Linked DNA regions of Homo sapiens. The protein of the gene in region 1 interacts with the protein of each later gene in a biochemical or structural test. Each region holds a gene or a part of one and is shown in the gene's direction. Other genes may lie near its edges. The genes, in order: RFWD3, ORC2 and RPA3.

What was found.
Region 2: the proteins of RFWD3 (region 1) and ORC2 form a complex in vitro, tested with the Homo sapiens proteins (one study listed by BioGRID).
Region 3: of the proteins of RFWD3 (region 1) and RPA3, one has a biochemical effect on the other in vitro, tested with the Homo sapiens proteins (one study listed by BioGRID).

The regions. Positions count from the first base shown.
Region 1 is NC_000016.10:74,621,878-74,630,342, reverse strand, and holds part of RFWD3 (E3 ubiquitin-protein ligase RFWD3), read left to right. Parts: intron 1-1,676; coding exon 1,677-1,891; intron 1,892-3,788; coding exon 3,789-4,000; intron 4,001-6,271; coding exon 6,272-6,415; 3' UTR 6,416-8,465. UniProt on the Homo sapiens protein: E3 ubiquitin-protein ligase required for the repair of DNA interstrand cross-links (ICL) in response to DNA damage. Plays a key role in RPA-mediated DNA damage signaling and repair.
Region 2 is NC_000002.12:200,930,810-200,940,633, reverse strand, and holds part of ORC2 (origin recognition complex subunit 2), read left to right. Parts: intron 1-2,667; coding exon 2,668-2,728; intron 2,729-4,741; coding exon 4,742-4,935; intron 4,936-6,659; coding exon 6,660-6,758; intron 6,759-9,185; coding exon 9,186-9,295; intron 9,296-9,824. UniProt on the Homo sapiens protein: Component of the origin recognition complex (ORC) that binds origins of replication. DNA-binding is ATP-dependent. The specific DNA sequences that define origins of replication have not been identified yet.
Region 3 is NC_000007.14:7,634,537-7,639,950, reverse strand, and holds the end of RPA3 (replication protein A 14 kDa subunit), read left to right. Parts: intron 1-806; coding exon 807-881; intron 882-1,978; coding exon 1,979-2,087; intron 2,088-2,868; coding exon 2,869-2,951; 3' UTR 2,952-3,433; downstream 3,434-5,414. UniProt on the Homo sapiens protein: As part of the heterotrimeric replication protein A complex (RPA/RP-A), binds and stabilizes single-stranded DNA intermediates that form during DNA replication or upon DNA stress.

The DNA.
Region 1 (8,465 bases):
ACAGATCAGGAGGTCAGGAATTCGAGACCAGCCTGACCAACGTGGTAAAACCCCGTCTCTACTGAAAATACAAAAAAATGTTAGCCATGCGTGGTGGCACACGCCTGTAATCCCAGCTACTCAGAAGGCCGAGGCAGAAGAATCTATTGAGCCTCGGAGGCGGAGGTTGCGGTGAGCCGAGATTGCGCCGTTGCACTCCAGTCTGGGCAACAGAGTGAGACGCCATCTCAAGAAAAAAAAAAATAGCCACATGTCTAGCACATAGGAAGAGATCAGTTAAGGGTAACCTAATCAAAAGTGATTTAAAACTTCCCTAATCCAAAGCTAAACCAACTTGTTTGAAGATACCATATTATTATTATTTATCATTTAATCCAGTTATGAGATTGAGAAGTTTATAAAGTGAGCCCAAGTTCTGAGGATGGATGGCCACCAGCACCACTCTGTCTTAGAATGTGTTGAGCTGCCCTGTAGGTATAAAGTTATCAAAAAGGGAGTAGGGTCTGTGACCTGGCCAAAATCTGAAGTATCTTAACAGATAATTTATGTTTCCAACTGGATATATTAAAAAGAGCAAGGAGAGCCAAACATAAAGATACCACTAAAGTAATAATTCTTTACTGAAACCTAGGCCCAAATAGAGTAGACAGTAAAATATGGCAAGGTTTTTTTTTTTTGTTGGTGGTAGTGGTTTTTTTGTTTTGTTTTGTTTTTTTAAGATGGTGTCTCACTCTGTCACCCAGGCTGGAGTGCAGTGGCACAGTCTTGGATCACTGCATCCTCCACCTCCCGAGTAGCTGGGACTATACGCGTGTGCCACCACACCTGACTAACTTTTGTATTTTTAGTAGAGATGGGGTTTCACCATATTGGCCAGGCTGGTCTCAAACCGGTGACCTCAAGTGATTCTCCCACCTCGGCTTCCCGAAGTGCTGGGATTACAGGCGTGAGCCACCATGCCCAGCCAAACACAGCAAGTTTTAAAATAGCAAGGAAAGAATATTTGTATGTAATGTTCATTTTTATTTTTGTTTACTTTGATTACCTTTATTGTGACAGGGAAAATAAAACAGGCAAAGTAGACACTTTGGCAACTTTGGCACGAACGACTTCATAGCAGAAATGAGTTGATAGGAACACAGTCGGAAGGATGATATTTCTGAGAGAATTCTTGGCGCATAGTCCTGGTCATATGCTTGCAGAAGGAAATTTAGAAAACCTAAAACAGTCCTGTTTCTGAATTAAAATGTAGCTGCTTTTAGCTGTATTTTAATTGTGGGGTCTGTCAACTACAACTTGGGATCTTTATTTTGTTATGTATATAAGCTTTGTTTCTTTTCTGACTTTTCTTATGTGGCTAAACCCATTTCCAGAAGCTTCACATCAGTCAAGCTTCATAGTAATTGTGATCTTGTATCCCTTAAATTTCCTAGTTCTTTTTTTCCTTTTCTTTTAGAGCATCTGGTATCTCACCTGAAATTAGTTGCAGAATATTATATGTATGTCCTTTTGTTTCTACAGAGAGGGTTGATAATTTTTATCAGATATCAGAGGATAGTGACTAAAGGCGTTTAACCTCCTCTGCAGAGGTGGGAATGTGCTTGAGGTCTGGTAGTGGGGTCTGGAGCCGTCCGAGTTTTGGAGTGTGAGATACAGTTTCCTTACTTTCCTTTCAGATGCCCACTGGTCTCCCTGTCATACATGCCCAGAGCTGCCTCAGCTGCATTTCCATATGGTGGGGTGCTGGCTGGAACCTTGGAGGATGCTTCATTCTGGGAACAGAAAATGGACTTTTCTCATTGGCCTCATGTGCTGCCCTTGGAGCCAGGGGGCTGCATAGACTTTCAGACAGAGAACAGCTCCCGGCACTGTCTTGTGACCTACAGGCCTGGTAAGTAGTGCTGGGGTCTCCCATAGCTTATTTGGGAGCACAGTGGTAGAGAAAAGGGAAGGAGGGTTTGATCCTACCCTTTGGGTGGCTGTGGTACCGCTCACAGGCTAACGAGGTGTGTTGTAGCTCTTGCTACTACAGGGAGTATGGTGGCTCCAAGCTCCCCCACAGAGCCTGCCTCCCTGCTCCTTACGTGTGAGGACTGGAGCATATTCTGCCAGGTACTCCTGGAAGTGAATTAGCCACTTAGGAGCCCCTACAGTTTAGAACAGTAGTGGAACAAGGGGGCCAGCTCTAGGTCATTGAGCCACCTTGAGATCACTTTCGTATCTTCTGCCTGCCTCTTACTTCCCCTGAGAGAAAGGCCCAGATTAGGGCAGCCATGTAGTAGCCCGGCTGGCATACTGAAATGGACAACAGTGGCTGTGTGTGCCCAGCCAGCTGAACATCTCTGCCTCTGGAATCAGAGGTGGAACGCATAACAGCAGACTGTGCTTCATTCACAGGTTCTTTCTAGGCTAAGCGGCATGAATCTAAATTCCTGGTAAACTGTACTGATGGTCAGTGTTCTAGGTTTTTTCTTTCTAATTTGGTCTTGAGGTCTCTGTCAGGAGAGTGGCTATAAACTCTAGCCCTGTCCTGCCAAACACTAGGGAGTTCGTTGTGGGTGTTCATAGTTTGCCTTTCACAGGATACTCCTCTGTCCTGGCAGATGGCCTAATGCCTGCCTGACCCATGACCAGATGTCCCTCTCACAGGAAACTTGTTTGTACTGGCAGGTACCCTTGTGGCTCTTGTCTGAACTGTGTCTAGTTCATTTCCCTTGAGATAGTGACTCTCTAGAAGAGCCCTGACTAGGAAACAAGTTAGGTTCAGGTGTGTTGGTCAGGTGAGACACAAAGGAGGCAGTGCACAAAACACAGGAAATAACGGAATCAGCTTACTTGACAGATCCCACAGAGAAGAGGGCAGCATGCTTCAGGGGCCAATGGGAAGAAGGGGGAGCCATCCAGGACAGGCCTGCTCCCTTAGGGGTGGGGTAGGGGTGGAGGGGAGGGACAAGTGGGCTATATTTCAAACCTCTGCTCAGGGAAGGGATGTTTTAACTAGGCCAAAGTTGACAGGGTACATCTGGGTTTCAAATAATTTATGCTAGCCCTAAAAACAGATGCTGAGGTAACAACTGTATTAAACACATTTGTAACAGTCAGGCAGATGTATAGTCAGAGTTAGTCATTAAATGCTCACACTTCTGCTAGTTGTGGGTGGGTCTACTCATGTTTTTAAGTTTTGTTTGAGCTGAGAAACATCCCAGTACCACTTCAGACCCTTTGGCTCTTCATCATCCCACAGCTCGGCTGTCTCCAAGACTGTGATTTGTTGTGACTGGTGTACAAAGCCTGGGGGTCCTATTTTGTTATCTTGCTTTTGTTTGCCTCCCAGCAGAATTTCAGATACATGTTTCCCTTTCTGTAATAGCATGCTTTCACTTTATAAAAATGTGCAGTCCCAGGGGCTAATGAGGTTCTCACTGGGGGAAGGGAAAAACCTTTTACTGAGAATTCTTGAGAGAGAAATCCCCTAGCAGAGGTCTGGCAGGAGACTGATTTTACTAAAACAGACAACTCACAGAATTGTTTTTCTCTTAAGCAAAAAGCTATTGTAGATAACTTGATTCCTAGCCTATGGTTCTAAATTTCACTGATGCTAGCCTACGGTTCTAAATTTCATTGATGCTGTGATATTGTTCTTTCATTTGTTTTGTAACTGTTCTTGATGGTTTAATGCATTTATGGCTTTTCCATCCAACTAGGTTGTAAGCGTGTGAGGTTTGGGTACTTGGTTAATTTTTTGTGTAGCGTCCCCATGGTGCAGCACTGATTTCTCTGTCCCATAGATAAAAATCACACCACCATACGAAGTGTGCTGATGGAAATGTCCTACCGACTGGATGACACTGGAAATCCAATCTGCTCCTGCCAGCCTGTACATACATTTTTTGGAGGACCTACTTGCAAACTATTGACCAAAAATGCCATTTTCCAAAGCCCAGAGAATGATGGCAACATCCTGGTGTGTACTGGGGATGAAGCAGCAAATTCTGCCCTGGTGAGCCTGTTACTTTTTTACTTTCATATAAAAAGTAGTTTTGCTTAAAATATTGGTAAGGGAAAACATGAACTTTTTTTACAGAAGCTCATATAGCAAAAAAGTGTAAGTTCTGCTCTGTAATCCCACATATCCGCATATGTGTGTATGTGAGATTGCTTGGTTTCCATGAGTCGTGCTTTCCGTATTGCTTTGTAGATCTTGACTGAACTGCTGCAACCTCTATTTCTTGGGTTCAAGTGATTCTCCTGCCTCAGCCTCCTGAGTAGCTGGGATTACAGGCACCCCACCACCATGCCCGACTGATTTTTGTATTTTTAGTAGAGACAGGGTTTCACCGTGTTGGCCAGGCTGGTCTGGAACTCCTGACCTCAAGTGATCTGCCGGCCTTGGCCTCCCAAAGTGCTGGGATTAGAGGCGTGAGCCATTGCACCCAGCTGAGATGTTCTTGAACCTGAGTCTGATTAAGGCCTAGAGTAGCACTGTCCAGTACAGTCACACTAGTCACATGAGCACTTAAAGTGTGCTTAGTGCCAAGGAAGAACTTAATGTTTAATTTTAATCAAGTTAAATATAAACTTGTGTGACTAGAGGCCACCATATTGTATAGTGCCACTCTAGAAGCTAGCGCTAACTTTCATTGACTGGAGTTGCAGGGAATAGAGGAGAACAAGTTTAATGATAGCACAGAAAGCATATACACAAGTCCGGGTTGTGGGCGTTCTATAAGACAGCTGATCTGGCTTCCACAACAAGTCAATGGCAGAAGAAAAAAGGTTGGATTATAGGCGTGAGCCATTGCGCCTGGTCTGTCCTTTTTTTTTTTTTCTTGAGACGGTCTCGCTCTGTTACCCAGGCTGGAGTGCAGAGGCGCAATCTCGGCTCACTGCCACCTCCACCTCCCAGGTTCAAGCAATTCTTGTGCCTCAGCTTCCCAAGTAGCTGGGTGCACACCAACCATACCCGGCTAATTTGTGTATTTTTAGTAGAGACAGGGTTTTGCCATGTTTCCCAGGCTGGTCTCAAACTCCTGGGCTCAAGCAGTCTTCTCACCTCAGCCTCACAGACTACTAAGATTACAAGCATGAGCCACCGTGCTCTCTACCTTTTTTTTTCTGTCCCTCTCTACTTTTTTTTTTTTTTGAGACAGGGTCTTGCTCTGTTGCCCAGGCTGGAGTGCAGAGGTGCAATCTTGGCTTACTACAACCTCCACCTCCTGGGTTCAAGTGATTCTTGTGCTTCAGCCTCCCAAGTAGCTGGAACTATGGGTGTGTGCCACCATGCCCGGCTAGCTCTACTTTTTAATACTTCAAAATATTTTTCATTTCTTTTTGTTTGTTTGTTTGTTTGTTTTTAAGTGACAGTATCTTACTCGGTCCAGGCTGGAGTGCAGTAGTGCAATCATGGTTCACTGTAGCCTCAAACTCCTCAGCTTAAGCAATCCTCCTTCAGCCTCTTGAGTAGCTGGGACTGCGGGCATGCACCACTACACCTGGCTAATTTTTTCTTGTAGAGATTGGATTCTTGCTGTATTGCCCCAGCTGGTCTCAATCTCCTATCCTCAAGCTGTCCTCCCATCTCAGACTCCCAAAGTGTTGGAATTACAGGTGTGAGACACCATGCCTGGCCAATAATAAATTTTTAGAGGCCAGACGCGGTGGCTCACGCCTGTAATCCCAGCACTTTGGGAGGCCAAGGTGGGTGGATCACCTGAGGTCAGGAGTTCTAGACCAGCCTGGCCAACATGGTGAAACCCATCTCTACCAAAAATACAAGAAAATTAGCCGGGCGTGGTGGTGGATGTCTGTAATCCCAGCTACTTGGGAGGCTGAGGCATGAGAATCGCTGGAACCCAGGAGGCAGATGTTGCAGTAAGCCAAGATCGTGCCACTGCACTGCAGCCTGGGTGACAAGAGTGAGACTCCGTCTCAAAGAAAAAAAAGGGTGAGTTCCATGAGGGCAAAGACAGGGACTTTATCTTATTGACCCTTCTGTCCCTAGAAGAGGCTGGCACATTGAATGAATGGAAGCTGGGCTTTATTTCAGGTCCACTTACAGGTAGACTAATTGCTGATTACAGTAGGTGAGGCTGTACCTGAACTATGTCAGGTGTGCTGACTTTGAACAACCTTGCAAAGGTTAGGGACAGCCTGCTTTGCTCTCCAGGTAGTGTTCTCTCTGCAGCCTTTCAGACTTGTTAGATGATGAAGAATGGAAGTCCCTTCGTGTACTGACTGACTCCTGACCCTTCCCTCTGCTTGTGTTCTTTAGCTGTGGGATGCTGCCAGTGGCTCGTTGCTCCAGGACCTACAGACCGATCAGCCTGTGTTGGACATCTGCCCATTTGAGGTGAACCGTAACAGCTACTTGGCTACCTTAACAGAGAAGATGGTCCACATCTATAAGTGGGAGTGACTGTGGTCTCGAAACCTTGAAGGCATGCTGCTGGTTAGATGTTGTTTGCTAGCGCCTAGCAGCCCCAAGCAAGATCCCTGTTTATTGTCTGCAGTCTAGAACATTGGGAATCATGGTTTGTTTGCATTAGTATGATTCTAGGACCCTAGGTCACTGAGACACTACAGATTGTGTATCTGTTATGTCCACTAAAAGAGTAATTGATGGGTACTTTATCTACATTATCCATTTCTTGGGTTTAAAGCCTTCATTAACCATTATTGTATGTTGGAAATTCTTATTTTCTTTATTTTCTGTGTGACTTTCTGGACCTTAGAGAGTGTCCTCTCATCATCTAGGATGTGAGTGGGCATCAAGCATTTTCTGGGGAATATGACATCCCATCTGAGTTGTCCTGTCACTTAAGTATCCTTGAAGGGACTAACCATCGTCTTGGTACTGATTTGATGCAACGTAGATGTAAAAGAGTATTATTCAGTTGAACACAAGAGGGCACTGTAGAACCTTGTGTCCGGTTTATTTCTGACCTTGAAGGCTGACAATCTTTTAGTAACTTGTCTCATCTCCACACAAGTGTGTGATAGCACACCTGGGTGTGCTTTGTGGCAATAACACTTGTGTTCCAGGTGTGAAGTGCTGGGACATTGGCAGGCCCAGTGATGGAAGCAGCTAGTGAACGATTCCCTTTGCTAATGCCTAGTGCATTAAGTTCATTGCTTTGCGAAAGGTAAGGAAAGAGGCCAGTTGTTTGAGCGGTGGGGAAGATTTTGTTTTTTCTAGCCAGCTTAGGATCTCAGGATTGGTTTTATCCAAGCTAGTGCTTTGAAGAACACTATCTCTTGCCAGGAAAAGATGAGTGATAGGTCAAAGCTTTTACTTGAGTCTCCCCTAGTGTCAGAGATCAGGAGAAAAGACATAAGAGAATTTACAAAAGCTATTCAGACTGCTATTGAAAACATGAGAAGAACTTGTCTCCCATTTTGAGAGTTCCTATCTAAATAAAGCCAATTCCTCAGACTGAGGGGCTGTTCTTAAGTGTTCTTTATACATTCCAGTTATCCAGTTAAAGCCTTCCCCATGTGAAGCTGATGTTTGATTCCAGTTTCCTTTGATTTGCCTCCCTAACCTTTTCTAGGGCTCAGTTTGTATTTCTTTGCCTTGCCTCAGACTACTTTGCCAACCCACTTCCACAACAGAATATGCTTCAAGATGTGGGCAGGTCAGTGTCCTGTTCATGGGAGAAAATGGCTTAACAGTCTGATTTTCTCAAATGATTATTGAAGAGTTGTTATCGTTTTTATTATAAAACACTTCTGACCTGTCAATTCAAGAGCTGTTTCTAGGATCTTTCTCTCCGGCAAGGGGTTGTTGCACTAGATTTCCCCAGAGTTCCAAGTTCTAGTTGTGCCTTTTAATGACCCTTTAATATTTTAGGACATAATTTTTTCCTTTTTTAAATTTTTTTGTAGAAATAGATGTTTCACTACGTTGTCCAGGCTGGTCTTGGACTCCTGGCCTCAAGCAATCCTCCCACCTCAGCCTCCTAAAGTGCCAAAATTATAGGCGTGAGCCACTGCACCCGGCCCCTATTTGAAGACGTCTTTTGTAAAAGCTAGCTTCTAGAACCTGAGAAAAGCTCTTTTCTCAGAGGAGATACTCCTTTTGATATGTTAATGATTAAGAGTGGTTGCCCAGGCCTAGTTTCAGTGGCAGAATAGGATTGGAATTAAAAAGCAGAACTCATCTGGCTTCAGCAGATTGCCACCAAGAGGATACAGGTGGTCAGGTCCTGGCTGGCTTTGTCTTTGGGCCTGGGCAGGCTTAGGATTTGACTTTCTTTGAAGTACCTGATGCTGATTGATTCCACTAATAGTAGGAAGCAAGAGACTTAACTATGAGGGACGTTATGTGAATCTTAAGTCTTACCAGTCCTTGCATTAGTACATTAAATTTGGATGTTTTGGAAGCAAATTCATACGATCGTGAGTGATTTCTCCAAAGAAAAAAAGCCTTGTCCAGCCTGACCAACATGGTGAAACCCCATCTCTAC
Region 2 (9,824 bases), on another chromosome or scaffold:
GGCAAGGCTTCACCATGTTGGCCAGGCCGGTCTTGAACTCCTGACCTCAAGTGATCCATCCACCTGGGCCTCTCAAAGTACTGGGATTTCAGGTGTGAGCCACCACGCCTGGCCTCCTTTGTGTTTTTGTGGTATAATTTTCTCATTATGCCTTTTCAAGTGGTGAGTGTTCCATGAAAGGGCCATATATGCAAAGCATCCCCCAAATGCCAAAGGAGCCAAGAAACCAAAGGACAAGGCAGACAAGTTTAGTTTGTCTGTAAAGGGTATTTTATTAGAGACAGAAGCATGGTCTTGGGCAGCCACAAGACAGGTAGCTCTCTGCAGTGTTACTCCCCAGACCCACGGCTTACCTACCATAAGGAAAGGGTATACATGTTCCAGCAAGATAATTAAAGGCAACCCTCTTTAATTGTCAAGAGGGCAAGAATGCTATATGCATTGTAGCCAGTAATTTGTGTGATAATATCAAGGTTGACATGTTCTTTCACAGAAGGCAGTACATAAAGTAGGAATCAGGAGGCATTCATGAGACTGGGGCTAATCAGAAGTTAACGTGATGGATTAGCATCCAAGATGGAGTAACTTTTGTCTCCACAGTCAGTATAGACATTTAAGGCCATGGTTATGGCCTGTGCAGGAATGTCCTATTTAGACAAGTCTAGGTATGGGATTAGACATGCCAGACTTTCATTTGTCTTTAATAATGCTTTTTTCTTATGTCTTGTGTGTTCTATCACTATAAAAGGAAAAAAACTCATTGCCATAATCTAATCAAGAATTTAGATTATTCTTTCTCAAGTTATAGATTATAACCCATTAGAAGATATTGTCAACTCTCCCAAAAAACCAGAAAAACCTGTTGATGAAACAAAGCTACCTATCACAATAAGAGACAACATCGTTGTGACAGAATCTTAGTGTACTGTCTTAGAAAAGCAAGTTCAAGAGAAAATATGTATCGGGCTTGGGGATCCTGGGCTCAAGTGGCTTAAAGCAGGTTTTTCAAAATGGTAAACTGATTGGGATTGGGCAAAGTTAGGGACATGATATTTTAGGATTGGTAGACACAGTGAAGATCGTGTCTTAAAGTGTATCTTGATAACTAAACTGTTGATAAGATAAGCTGTTTGCCCTAGGAGTAATCTGTTGTCCTGATAGGGAGAACAGTTTGCCCAAATGAGCAAACTGTCAAGAGAGATTAGTTTGCAGAAATGTTCTATAGCAAGTAGGAAAAAATTATTTATTAGTCTTGTCTTTTTGAGCAGGAATTTTCTGCAGTGGTTATTTTGACACAGGTGTTGTGAATTCTCAGACTTAAGCTGTGTAGATATATATAAGTTATCTCAATACTCAATCTTGAAATCAGTTTAATAGGACATAAACTGCATTTTTAACAAATGAAGTAGAACAGAATTTTAAATTTCTGTTTTATAATTTTTTTTAGTTATATATACACGTGTACTGGGTCAAGATGACAAAATGTAAAAATTTTTGAGGATCTTGATCAAAAAATTTGAGACATACTGTAATTCCATTGGTAAGGGATTAGCTCAGTTATTAGAGTACTATTCTTTTTTTTTTTTTTTCCCCCTGAGGAAGAGTTTCATTGTGTTGTCCAGGCTGGAGTCCAATAACGTGATCTCGGCTCACCGCAACCTCCACCTCCCAGGTTCAAGCAGTTGTCCTGCCTCAACCTCTCGAGTAGCTGGGATTACAGGCATGCACCAGCACGCCCGGCTAATTTTGTATTTTTAGTAGAGACGGGATTTCTCCATGTTGGTCAGGCTGGTCTCAAACTCCCGACCTCAGGTGATCTGCCCGCCTTGGCCTCCCAAAATGCTGGGATTACACAGGCATGAGCCACTGTGCCCGGCCTAGAGTACTATTCTTAAAATCAAATCAGATTTTAATGACACCAGCAATCTATCACAAGACAATAAACTTAAATTTTTTTGTCATATTGTCATGTTGACAAAATCACAGGGTACTTTAACTTTTTTATCAGTACTATTAGAAATTTACAGGTATATAACAGTGGATGTTTTAATGTGCTAACAATTTATGGTATTAAAGTATTCTATAAAAAAACAGACTTTGTACTCCTACAAAAAGTTACAATTTTTTAAATACAGAAAGTAAGAAAGTGTAAATCTCTCCTTCTCTCCTCAAAGAATGTAATACTTTAACACCAGTAAATTTCTAGCACATTAAAAGGCCCATTGCCATATACATAGGGGTGCCCGTTCCCTTTCATACTTATGATTGCTACATAATACTATCTTTTAAAAAAATACTCCATTGGGCCGGGCGCTGTGGCTCACACCCATAATCCCAGTACTTTGGGAGGTTAAGGTGGGCGGTTCACTTGAGGTCAGGAGTTTTGAGACCAGCCTGGCCAACATGGTGAGACCCTGTCTCTGCTAAAAATACAAAAATTAGCTGGGTGTGGTGGCACGTGCCTATAATCACAGCTACTTGGGAGTCTGAGGCAGGAGAATGGTTTGAACCCATTTGTCATAATCTTCTAGTTCTAGGAACTAAGCTCATCTAGTTCTAATGCAGTCTATTGAAAGCAAAATATTTTTCTTTTTTTCTAGCCTCTTTCACTCAGATCAGTCATTAATTTCCATGTTATTATTTAATGCTTTTTCTATTTCTAAACAGAACAATGACAAAAGTGAATTTCTGTCAACAGCACCTCGTAGTCTAAGAAAAAGATTAATAGGTACGTATTTGTTTTTACATGACTTTTTATAAAAAGTAGCATCTAAACAAGAGGCAATAATAGTTAAGTATATAGGTTCTAGACTTAGACTGCTTGGTGTTTTGAATCTTTGGCTTTTAGTTGCAACACTTAGCACCATGTCTTTCACATTGTAGTCAGTGTATATTGAAGTCAGCTAAAAGGTCTTTCCAATGAAATAACATGCCTTTTAATTGTTTTGAGACAGTTTGGAAATTATTCTATTGATTTATTTGGAAATTTTATAATGAAATAATATTAAATATTCATAGTTGTACTGAATGCTAAACAAAGTCAAGTAAACAGACATGGCTTCTGCCTTCTAGGAAATTAAAAATCGTTTCAGATTTTTGAATATTGAACTTTGAGGCAAATGACTGGACCTTTATATATCAGGAAGATGTCAACACCTTTCATAATGTTGACCCTTGACAATAATAGTATTAGTCAACATTGTTAAATTCAGCCTAACATCAGGGCTTCATACTTCATAGCCCTTTCTTTTCAAGGTATGGATTTCATAGAGTTGTTAAAACTGTATTTTTAATCACCATAAAATTGGTAATGCTAAATGATTTGGTATATTAAAGCAGTAAAAGATCTGTATAGTTGTGATTGTTATTTCATGTCAACTATATCCCATGTCTTATGTTTTCTCCTCATCCCAAATATGGGTTGTTTTTTAGAGAGAAGGTGAACTTCCCTCTTCCTTCTTAATCACCACAAAACATATATACCTACATGGAGGAAGCATACATGTAAAGAAGGTAGAGATACTTTCTGGTACCTGCCACCACTTCTAACTGTGCATGTACCACGAGCAGCAGTCAATGCACACCTGAATCTGCTGAGCTATATATGCCCACAAAATCAAGCCTTTTTTTTTCTTTTTTTTTTTAATATCTACATTTGTTACATGCTGACTTGGGATAATCCTCTGCAGTATATCTGTTGTTCAGAATAAATATGCTGATTTGTTTAAGTTTTTTCACTCATATTTTGGAAGTTAGCTTTTAAAAACAGTTTTATGCCTGTTTAGTGTGAAACTGGCTTTATTCTTATTTGATAAATGTAAAACTAGCTATATTATTTCTGGGGAGTTGTAGGGATGAGGTTGTGGTTTGTTTAAAAAGACAATTCTTGAATCAACTCTGGGATGGTGTATGTGTATGTATTAGTAATAATTATAATCATAAGTACCATTTATTGAGTGCTATATTAGTTAGTATGACGTTTTCAGTAGGCAGCAACAGAAAATTCTATAATGGTAGTTTAAGCCATAGACATTTAAGTATCTCACATCAAAACAAGTATGGAGATGCAAGTTCCATGGTTGATGTGACTTAACAGTATCATTAAGGACCCAGATTCTTCCTATCTTTTACTCTGCCACCAGCATTTTTCATCTTTAGGTTTGATACTTCATATTGCAAAATGGCTTTCATAGCTTTAAACGATGGGTATAAATAGGGGCTTTTCTTCCGTAATTGAGGAAAATCCTTCTCAGAAGCTGCCAGCTATTTTCCCTCAATTCACTGGTCAAGGGGTCACATAGTCAACCATAGTTGGAGCAGAGGCTGGGAAAGCAGGTACCTTGAAGAGGAAAAAGGCAGTTACCATGATTCATCCCCTAGGATGGGGCATATTGCCATATTTTGCAAAATTGGAGTTCTGTTAGCAAGGAAGAGGGAAGGAGAACGGTGTTAGGTATGATTAACAATTTCTATCACAGTTCCTGTGTGTCAGGAATTATTAGTGGCTTTATATACATTTCAATGTAATCTTCCTAATGGTTTATTAAACTATGTACTATTAATTTGATAAATAAACTGGTGCTGAGAGAATTTGTTAATTAGCTCTGGTGAAATCATGAGCAGGTAATGACAAAACCAGAATTCAGACTCTTACTACAGAGCCCCCACTCTTTGCTTTACCCCACAATGCCTCTCTTGTCAAACCATGAAATTGTCCAAATTGCTATTTTTCCCCCCACAGTTCCAAGGTCTCATTCTGACAGTGAAAGCGAATATTCTGCTTCCAACTCAGAGGATGATGAAGGGGTTGCACAGGAACATGAAGAGGACACTAATGCAGTCATATTCAGCCAAAAGATTCAAGCTCAGAATAGAGTAGTTTCAGCTCCTGTTGGCAAAGAAACACCTTCTAAGAGAATGAAAAGAGATAAAACAGTAAGTGAAGAGAGAGACTTTAACCTTAAAGAAAAATTGTGTAATATTTCAAAGATAGGCTACCCTAAGAGATCCACATCTCTCAAAATAATATTTTTTCTTCACTTTTCTATATTTTCTCAGCCTTCCACATAAATTCCCACATATATTTGTTTCTACTTCTGGGCTTTCTTTTCTGGCCTGTCTACATATTCATGAATTAATACCATAGTATATGCTAAATAGTATATGCTAAAAGTGACATCTCAATTCCACTGTATAAAAATGAACTTTTTAGGCTGGGCACAGTGGCTCATGCCTGTAATCCCAGCACTTTGGGAGGCCAAGGCGGGTGGATCACCTGAGGTCAGGAGTTCGAGACCAGCCTGGCCAACATGGTGAAACCCTGTCTCTACTAAAAACACAAAAATTAGCCAGGTGTGGTGATGTGTGCCTGTAATCCCAGCTACGCGGGAGGCTGAAGCAGGAGAATTGCTGGAACCCAGGAGGCAGAGGCTGTAGTGAGCCGAGATCATGCCATTGTACTAGCCTGGGCAATAAGAACGAAACTCCGTCTCAAAAATAAATAAATAAATTTTTAAATAAGCTATGGGATTAGAATAAAAAATAACAAAAATAAAAAATGAACTTTTAAGTAAATATTGATTGGACAATTGGAGGCATGAGTTCTCAGTGTATCTTGTTTTTGTACCATTGTCAATGTATTCAAGTCAGTGTAATGAATGATGTGGCTAGGGACCCATGTTGAGTCATTTGGAAGAACATTGCAGGCACCTTGGTTTTAGAAAAGGCTAATTATCCTGGTGCTCTGTCTAAAGGTTCAGAGCAATTGAGGAGCCTACTGCTTAAATAGCTTTCTGTCCCTTCCTTACCACCCTAGAGTTTAGTCCTGCCCAAAATCAGAAGAACAAATAGTGTGAGAAGAAAATTCCGCTTGACTGGAATAGTAGGCCAGTTTTTTTATTTGTTTGTGGGTTTCTTTTTTTTCTTTTGTTACCTTGCAGTTGATTTCCTCATTTTCACAGTACTTCAGCTATACTAATATTAAAGGATTTGCTAAGACTATTTGAAGCCAGGCATGGTGGCTCATGCCTGTTATCCCAACACTTTGGGAGGGCAAGGTGGGAGGATTGCTTGAGGCCAGGAGTTTGAAACCAGCCTGGATAACATAATAAGACCCTGTCTCTGCAAAAAAAAAAAAAAAACAATTTAAAAAATTAGTCAGGTGTAGTGGTGCATGCCTGTAGTCCCAGCTACTTGGAAGGCTGAGGTAGGAGGATCCCTTGTGCCCAGGAGGTTGGGGGTACAGTGAGCTGTATTTGCACCACTACACTGCAGCCTGGGTGACAGAGTGAGACCCTTCCTCAATAAAGAAAGGAAAAAAAAAAGACTTACTTGAGGAGAAACAAAGATCTTGATATATAAAACCATCTCTCTTTTTTTAGTCTAAATGGAAATTACATATTGTAACTTAGGAATCATTTTTAGGAACAGACTACTACTTCACCTAGTCATTTCTTTAACTTATATGATCCTAGTAATTACTCAGTTTTATTACTGAAATTAAATATGCTTGGTCCTTAACTGGTACTGTTGCTTTAAAAAGAAAATACTACCAAGTAAAGAATTTCACGTGTCCTATTTTACATTAATATTACTGTCTAATTTTGATATGAGACAGATATTTGAAGCTACTAAGGACTGACTACTCTGTTCACTTTCAGAGTGACTTAGTAGAAGAATATTTTGAAGCTCACAGCAGTTCAAAAGTTTTAACCTCTGATAGAACACTGCAGAAGCTAAAGAGAGCTAAACTGGATCAGGTATGTTACAAGGAATGTTACTTCTAAATTTTTTTTACTCTGTCCTGAAAAATATGCTACGTAAGCAACAGATTTGAAAAGTATACACAAGTAGAATTATTGTCCTGATCAAATGAAACACAAGTTAATGTGATTATTACTTCTTTTATTATATAAATAGTAAATAGGCCGGGCACACCTGGCTCATACCTGTAATCTCAGCACCTTGGGAGGCCAAGGGAGGAGGATTATGTGAACACAGGAGTTTGAGACCAGCCTGGGCAATATAGGGAGACCTCGTTGTTACTAAAAATTTAAATAAATAAATAAATAATTTACTGGATTAGACAGACTGTAATTATGCATTTTTCCCCTCTTACTCGTTTATTATTTCTTCAGGATCTATGATAATCATCAGGGTCATAGTTCCTTGATATCCATTTACCATTTATCTCTGTTATTCATTTAACCTATATGTATTCACTAAATCTCACACTGGTCATAAAACAGCAACTGCAACCTGACTTTCTCTCAGTTAAAAACTTTGCACAAAGTAGAGGATATTCTGCTTGAGGATATTATGGAAAACCTGCCCAGTGTGGTAAGGTAACAAGATTACTATGTACCATGGTTCCAGTAGCTCATTTTACAAAAAAAAAAAAAAAAAAAATACCATACAGTTATACTTGCTGGGGTTTTACATCTCTGTGAGAGGAGACAGAACCATCTGAGTGAGAAAATCTTTGTCAGTAATAATTGCAATTGATAATCTAAGTCCTGGCTCATTGGTATTGAGACTCGGATCAGAGAATATAAGCAATATGGGAGAAGGACACATGAGTCTAGACTCACAATAGGACTTCATCAGACTTAGAGGCAAAAAGATCTCTAGGAGGATGAAAGAAACACCTGTCAGTGAGGGAGACGAAAGCCTTTCATTGGGCGTAAACATAGCATAGCTAACCAATACAATCTTCAGTAGCATGTGACAATAAGCATTTTTCATGTCTGCAAGTCAGTCAGAAGTTGGCTGATCTAGGATTTGCTCCATGTTTCTTTTCCTCGTTGGACCAGCAGGCTAGCTGAGGCATGTTATCCTCATGACAGTGGCAGAGGCATAAGAGGAAAAGTGGGAAAACACACAATCTCTTACAGCCCAGGCTCAAAACTAGATTGCCAGTTCTGCTTCATTCTAGTACAGCTGGATATTGGGGTCGAAAGTGCAGTTTTCCATGAATATTAATTAAAGTTTGAAATGAGGCTGGGCATGGAGGCTCACACCTGTAATACCAGCACTTTGGGAGGCCAAGGCGGGAGGATCACGAGGTCAGGAGTTTGAGAGCGGCCTGCCCAACATGGTGAAACCCCATCTCTACTAAAACTACAAAAATTAGCCAGGCGTGGTGGCACGCGCCTGTACTCCCAGCTACTCAGGAGGCTGAGGCAGGAGAATCGCTTGAACCTGGGAGGTGGAGTTTGCAGTGAGCTGAGATTGTGCCACCACACTCCAGGCTGGGTGACAGAGCAAGACTCTGTCTCAAAAAAAAAAAAAAAAAAAAAAAGTTTGAAATGAAAGTACATACATGAGATAACATTCTAGTGTTCACACTCAAGTGTGAATATGCTCAGATAATCTAGTGTAAATGACTGCTGGAAAAGATATTAGTGCTTTCTCTGCTTTTTCAGGGCTCTGAACTCAGAAGAGATAAGAGTTGTTTTTTTTTAACTACCTACTTAACAATTTTACTTAAAGGTAGTTCTGTTTGCTTTAACTGTGACTAAATAAACACAGTACAAGCCAGAGTACCTGGAATATTTATCGCAACTCTAATCTTCAGTATTTAAATAATATTTTACTTGAAAGGTGGTGGAATCATGAAAACATGGTAGTGCCAAAGTGAAGACCCATGTGTAGCTTTTTGCTAGAGTTTTCATTTCAAAAAATGATCTCTGATTCATCAGCATGAATTTCCAAGTTTGGGGTACAGGGCAATGCACTTTCCTCAGTTTATTTATATTATTGTTTTTAAAAATTTGCAATACTTACCAAAGATAAAGGATTTGTTAGAAACAGCTTTTGGAAGAGGAGCAGTGATATAGGTTTATTTTACTAATGATAATAGTAAGTAAATTATAAAGAACCTTTAATGTTTTCTGAGAAAGTAAAGCCTATTCTTGGAGTTTATAATCATTTAAGTGGTTCTGGACAAAACTTACCAAATTCTTTACTGTTATTACTAAAAAGAATGTTAACAATTTTAAGAAAACAAAAAAATTATTTTTTAAGAATTTTGTTTATCGGTTGATATACTCATTGCCAAACCAGATTAAAGTAATATTCCAATTGGATTGGCTTCTTCTAAGCTCTACTTCTAAGGAAATTGTTTGGATTGATTTGCTGTCTGTGCTTTGAGAATGACTTTTTTCCCCTCCTCCTTTTTTTTAAAGCAAACTTTGCGTAACTTATTGAGCAAGGTTTCCCCTTCCTTTTCTGCCGAACTTAAACAACTAAATCAACAGTATGAAAAATTATTTCATAAATGGATGCTGCAATTACAGTAAGTATTATCATTACAAACCCTTGTAAAATAAAGAATAATATTTACATGAATCTTTATGTTAAAGTAAGTTAACATTTTTCTTTTTACAGTGAGTTTCAGATATTTAGTCATATATAAAAATAAATGTAAAAATAGACATTATGACTCAGATATAGAAATGTCACTTTATTGTATGACTCTTCCCAGAAATTCTACAGTTTTTAAGAAATTTGTGTTTATCAGACTTGACAGCCATTGATAAGATAAATAGCATTTCTTAGAATTATGTTATTGGTTTAAAAAACTTGAATATTTCCTTTGTCAAGATTAATAAATATAACAATTAGAAAAAAAAATTATAAAGTTTTCCACAGCATAGTTCTTTAAATGAAAGGATAATATTTACTTTAATCTTATGTATGTGTACTACAGACTTTCAGAATTTTATGAACAGATTTGTTCTATAAGCATTATTTTACTATTTTAACATTATTTCCTAGAATATTTTTTCACTGTTATTATTTTCACACACCTCAGATTAAATTTT
Region 3 (5,414 bases), on another chromosome or scaffold:
TTACTTATTTTTGCAAACCTCGTTTCCTCGTTGTGATCGCTTCTCTGTAAAACATGCCTTGGTTGTCCGCTTTGGGTCCCGTAGTAACGAGTTATTTAACCCCAGTATTAAAGTGAAGTTCCCTCATTCTACAGGCGAGAAACAGGCCCAAAGTCTTGGAATCAGTGACCTGAAAAGCTGAGGAAAAGAAAACTATTATATAAAGACTTATTTAGTAGCTCATTTCATCCACACATCCTCTTCCTTAAATGAGTGTTGCTCTGACTTCCCAAGTAGGGAAACTGAGTAGGAGTGGTAGGTGGTTGACTAAAATGCTCAGAAACTCGGCAAATGGCAAAGCTGGCATTCAAACGCAATCTGACAGCGCTCTTTACAGCTGCTTCCCAGGAGTAGGACCCAGATATTCTAGCAACCAGTTCTCCTTTTACTTCATCATGCCTGTTTTTTAAAACATACCCTCCGTGGGATATGTACTGTCTAAATCATGAGTGCCAGCAGATTTCACTTTTAGGGTGGGCATCCTTTAATTTGTTATCAGAATAGGGTTGCCATATTTAGCAAATACAGAACCTACTTAACACTACAAAAAAAATCCTTGTTTATCTGAAATTCAGAAATTAACTGTGTGTTCCATGAACAGATTTGATAACATAAGATTATAATTTGATCCAATAAGTTGAATAAACTGAATGAATAAACTGTTCAAGAAACAGTTGATTTGTGCTCAACTAAGGATCAATGTACTCATCTTTAGTCAAACTTTGTTGTTGTTTTAGTGAGATTTTAATTATATGTTTCGTTTTTAGATTCATCCCACCGGAAAAATGTTTATTCTTTCAGATGGAGAAGGAAAAAATGGAACCATCGAGTTGATGGAACCCGTATGTTTAAGTGTTAATAAGTCTCTTATATATTATAGTTAATTCTTCATCTTGATTTGGTTTGTTGCCGATGTTTCTAATTTTTGCAATGGATTTAAAAAGGATGAGCTGGTAAAACGTCCCTGGCTGTAAAATTTAATTCTTGTACTATTCTCTCATTATATTTCCTTTTACATTTTTAACCAATGATTTTTTGGGCGTCATGATTTTTGAACATATCCCATAAATGTTGGATAACAATTCTCATTCCTTATGAAAGACCATAAAATCACATAAGAAAAATTTACGTTGCTTTTTTCTTCCTCAAGAGGTTTTTTGTTTCGTTTTTGTTTTTTTGTTTTGAGACAGGGTCTCACTCTGTTACCCCGGGTGGAATGCAGTGGCACCATCATGGCGCACTGCAGCCTTAGCCTCCCAAGATCAAGTTGCTCCCATGTCAGCCTCCCCAGTAGCTGGGACTACAGGCATGCTTAACCATGCCTGGCTAATTTTTGTTTTGTTTTGTTTTGTTTTGTTTTGTTTTGTTTTTTGTAAAGATGGCATCTCCCTATGTTCCTCAGGCTGGTCTTGAACTCTCGGTCTCAAGCAATCCTCCTGCCTCGACCAGCCCCTCAAGAGTTTTCGATTTTATTTTATTTTCTATTTTTGTTCATATATTTCCAGTTTTTACTTATTTATGTTTGCATTTTATGTTTAACATACTTAAAACTTTTTTTGGTATTTTGTGAAGACAAATCCATATGCTGTTTGGTTAATGTATACAGAACACATTGTGAAATACAGATTATAGAAGATTCCTCTCATAGGATATTACTGCTTATAGAAATGCTGGACGTTTTCAATAGTGATTTTGTCTTTAACTTGAATTGTAGCTTTGGACTTGAAGCTACTGCTAAAGGTAGCAGGAATTTTAACATGCTGACAGTTAAGTACTCAAACATTTGTTAACAAGTTACATTTTAACTTTTACACTGGTAATTCTTAAAATTACTTTGTTACTTGAAGTGATAGATTAGTAACCTGTATAACAGTTTTCCAAAATAATTGTCAACTGAAAATGTGATATCACCAAATCGATGTCTTGTTCTGTGTCTTAGCTTGATGAAGAAATCTCTGGAATTGTGGAAGTGGTTGGAAGAGTAACCGCCAAGGCCACCATCTTGTGTACATCTTATGTCCAGTTTAAAGAAGATAGCCATCCTTTTGGTAAATAAAGCATTCTAGTATTGACTGGTTTTATGTAATTACATAACATACAGTTTTATATAACTGTATGTAATTACATAACATACAGTTTTATATAACTGTATGTAATTACATAACATACAGTTTTATATAACTGTATGTAATTACATAACATACAGTTTTATATAACTGTATGTAATTACATAACATACAGTTTTATATAACTATGTTTTAACATACATTTTGTATTACATACAAAATTGTATGTATTACATACAATTACATAACATAAACATACAGGAAAACAGTTTTATTTTTAGTTTGATATATATTGGTCTAGAGTTTTAGTACTGCCACATTTTCAATTTCTATAGAATTTTGTGATCGTAAAGGCAAATGGGGGTACATTTTGTTTTGGCCTGCTTTTAAGTAGTGCTTATATATGTAAGAAACTCAGTAAAGATTAATTAATGTTTGTTGAAAGATAATTTTTTTAAATATAACAAAAATAGTATTAGTTTTTTTGTTGTAATATCTGAATTGAAGGAATTGAATAATGCATAACACCCAAAACACTACCAGGCAGAAACTGCCTGTATAATGAACATCAAAATGGATGGTACTCCCATGTCTTTTTTTTGGTGCCACAGTTAAATACAAGAATCCATAATCCATATCTCCATTTTTAGAAACTCACTTCCAAAAGGGTGAGAAAAAGGAAATAGGTAAAAATATCTTAGATAATAATTGATGTTACAACTTTCCATTGTAGATTAAATGTTTGCTTAAATGTTTCTTTCAGATCTTGGACTTTACAATGAAGCTGTGAAAATTATCCATGACTTCCCTCAGTTTTATCCTTTAGGGATTGTGCAACATGATTGATCTTGATGGATTTTCATACGATTGTAAATGAGCTATATTAAAGTCTATTAAAGGAAGCCCTTCTTGTTTGAGGGAGAGATTTCTGTGCTTTCTCATATTTAATTTGCTGTTTTTAAGATATTCCAACCTAGAGTTTTTGATGGAACTGATATATTGACAGTTCTCACCGAAGTCCTTTTATAAAGAATTGCTACTCCAATATATGGTCAGATTAGATGCAAGAATAAAGCAGTTGTCCGAGTCTAAGTTTCTATTTTATTAATAAAAACTAAAATGGTACGTACTATCGGTCATTTCATTTTCATTCTTTTAATCATGTATTCAAGCACAAACTTGAAATTTCATAGCCATAAGGTCAAGATTTAGACCTACCAAATAAAACCTTGGGCCAGCTGTGTTAAGGATTTGCTCACCTTTTCCCAAACTATACCTTGATAATTATTTCCTTGATACCCTACTTACAAAATGAAGTAGATGACATTAAAAAGGCAAACAGAGACTGGCCACGCTGGCTTACTCCTGTAATCCCAGCACCTTGTGAGGCCGAGGCGGGTGGATCACCTAAGGTCAGGAGTTCGAGACCAGCCTCACCAATATGATGAAACCCTGTCTCTACTAAAAATACAAAAATTAGCCGGGCGTGGTGACATGCGCCTGTAATATCAGCTACTCAGGAGGCTGAGACAGGAGAATCACTTGAACCTGGGAGGCGGAGGTTGCGGTGAGCCAAGATTGCACCATTGCACTCCAGCCTAGGCAACAAGAGTGAAGCTCTGTCTCAAAAAAAGGCAAACAGAATCTTACATCTTCTGTAATCTGTGAAGTATCTCTTTTTCTGGCTTGGTTTGGTTTTGTTTTTGTAGAGACAGGATCTCACTCTATTGCCCAGGCTGGAATACGGTTGTGCAATCATAGCTCACTGCAGCCTTGAACCTCTGGGCTCAGTCTCCCAAGTAGCTCAGACTACAGGTGGGCACTACCACGCCCAGCTAGATTTTCCTAAATTTCCGTGTAGAGATGGGGTCTCACTGTGTTTCCCAGGCTGGACTCAAACACCTAGCCTCAAGCAATCCTACCGCCTTAGCCTCCCAAAGTGTTGGGATTACAGGTGTGTAACAACCATGCCCAGCCTTCCTGGGTTTTAAAATAGCATTTACTAAATTCCAAACAAGGAATATATGATCATTGAAAGAGTTGGTGGAATCATTTGACTTTCTTTTTATTCTTTTCACCTGTCTAATCTTTAGTATGGAATCTCTCTCTAGCACCATGTTGGGGGTGAGCAGGGAAGATGTGGCAGATTTGGAATAAGGTAGTATAGAATAACCGATGACCTACGTGGCCAGTTAAGTTTTATGGCTTGACCCATTCCCTTGAATAAGGAAATAATTCTAAATCCATATAGGTTATTGTAAATTATACCAAAAATACTTAGTTTTAATTAGTGTAATCTTAAATTTCAACTTCTGTCATCCAAAAATACTCTGCTCATTACTTGAGGGGCATTGCCATAGCCATTTACGGTAAAGCATTCTGTTACATGAAATGAAGACAACTGTACAGTTTATACGCTGTATAATGACTTTGGTCAATGACAGACTGCATATATGATGGTGGTCCCATAAGATCATAATGGAACTGAAAAATTCCTGTCTAAAGACAAAGGCATCGTAACATCTTAGCACAATGCATTACTCACATGTTTGTGGTGATGATGGTGTAAACAAGCCGCACAGTAGGCTGCATGTAGAAGTATGACACATAGAATTATGTATGGTACATGATACTTGATAATAAAATACCATGTTACTGGCTATGTGTTTACTATTTATCATTATTTTAAACTGTACCCCTACTTACAGGAAAAAAGGTAACTGTAAACAGCCTCAGGAGAGTCCTTCAGGAGGTCTTCCCAAAGAAGACCTTGTTATAGGAGATGACAGTTCCCTGCATGTTATGGCCCTTGAAGAACTTCCACTGGGACAAGATATGGAGGTAGAAGACAGTGATATTGATGATCCTGTATAGGCCTAGGCTAGTGTGTGTGCTTGTGTTTTAGTTTTTAACAAAAAAGTTAAAATGTAAAAAGAAAATTTAATTTTGGAAATAGAAAAAAGTTCATAAGAATACAAAGAAAAATATTTTTGTTCAGCTGTACAGCGTGTTTTAAGCTAAGTGTTATTCAAAAAGAGTGAAATGTTTTTAAAAAATTTACTGTACCTTTTTTATTTATTTACTTATTTTTTTGAGATGGAGGCTCGCTCTGTCACCTGGGCTGGAGTGCAGTGGCATGATCTCAGCTAACTGCAACCTCTGCCTCCCGGGTTCAAGGAATTCTCCTGCCTCAGCCTCCCGAGTAGCTGGGACTACAGGCGTGTGTCACTATGCCCCGCTAATTTTTGTATTTTTAGTAGAGACAGGGTTTCACCATGTTGGTTGGGCAGGATGGTCTCAATCTCTTGA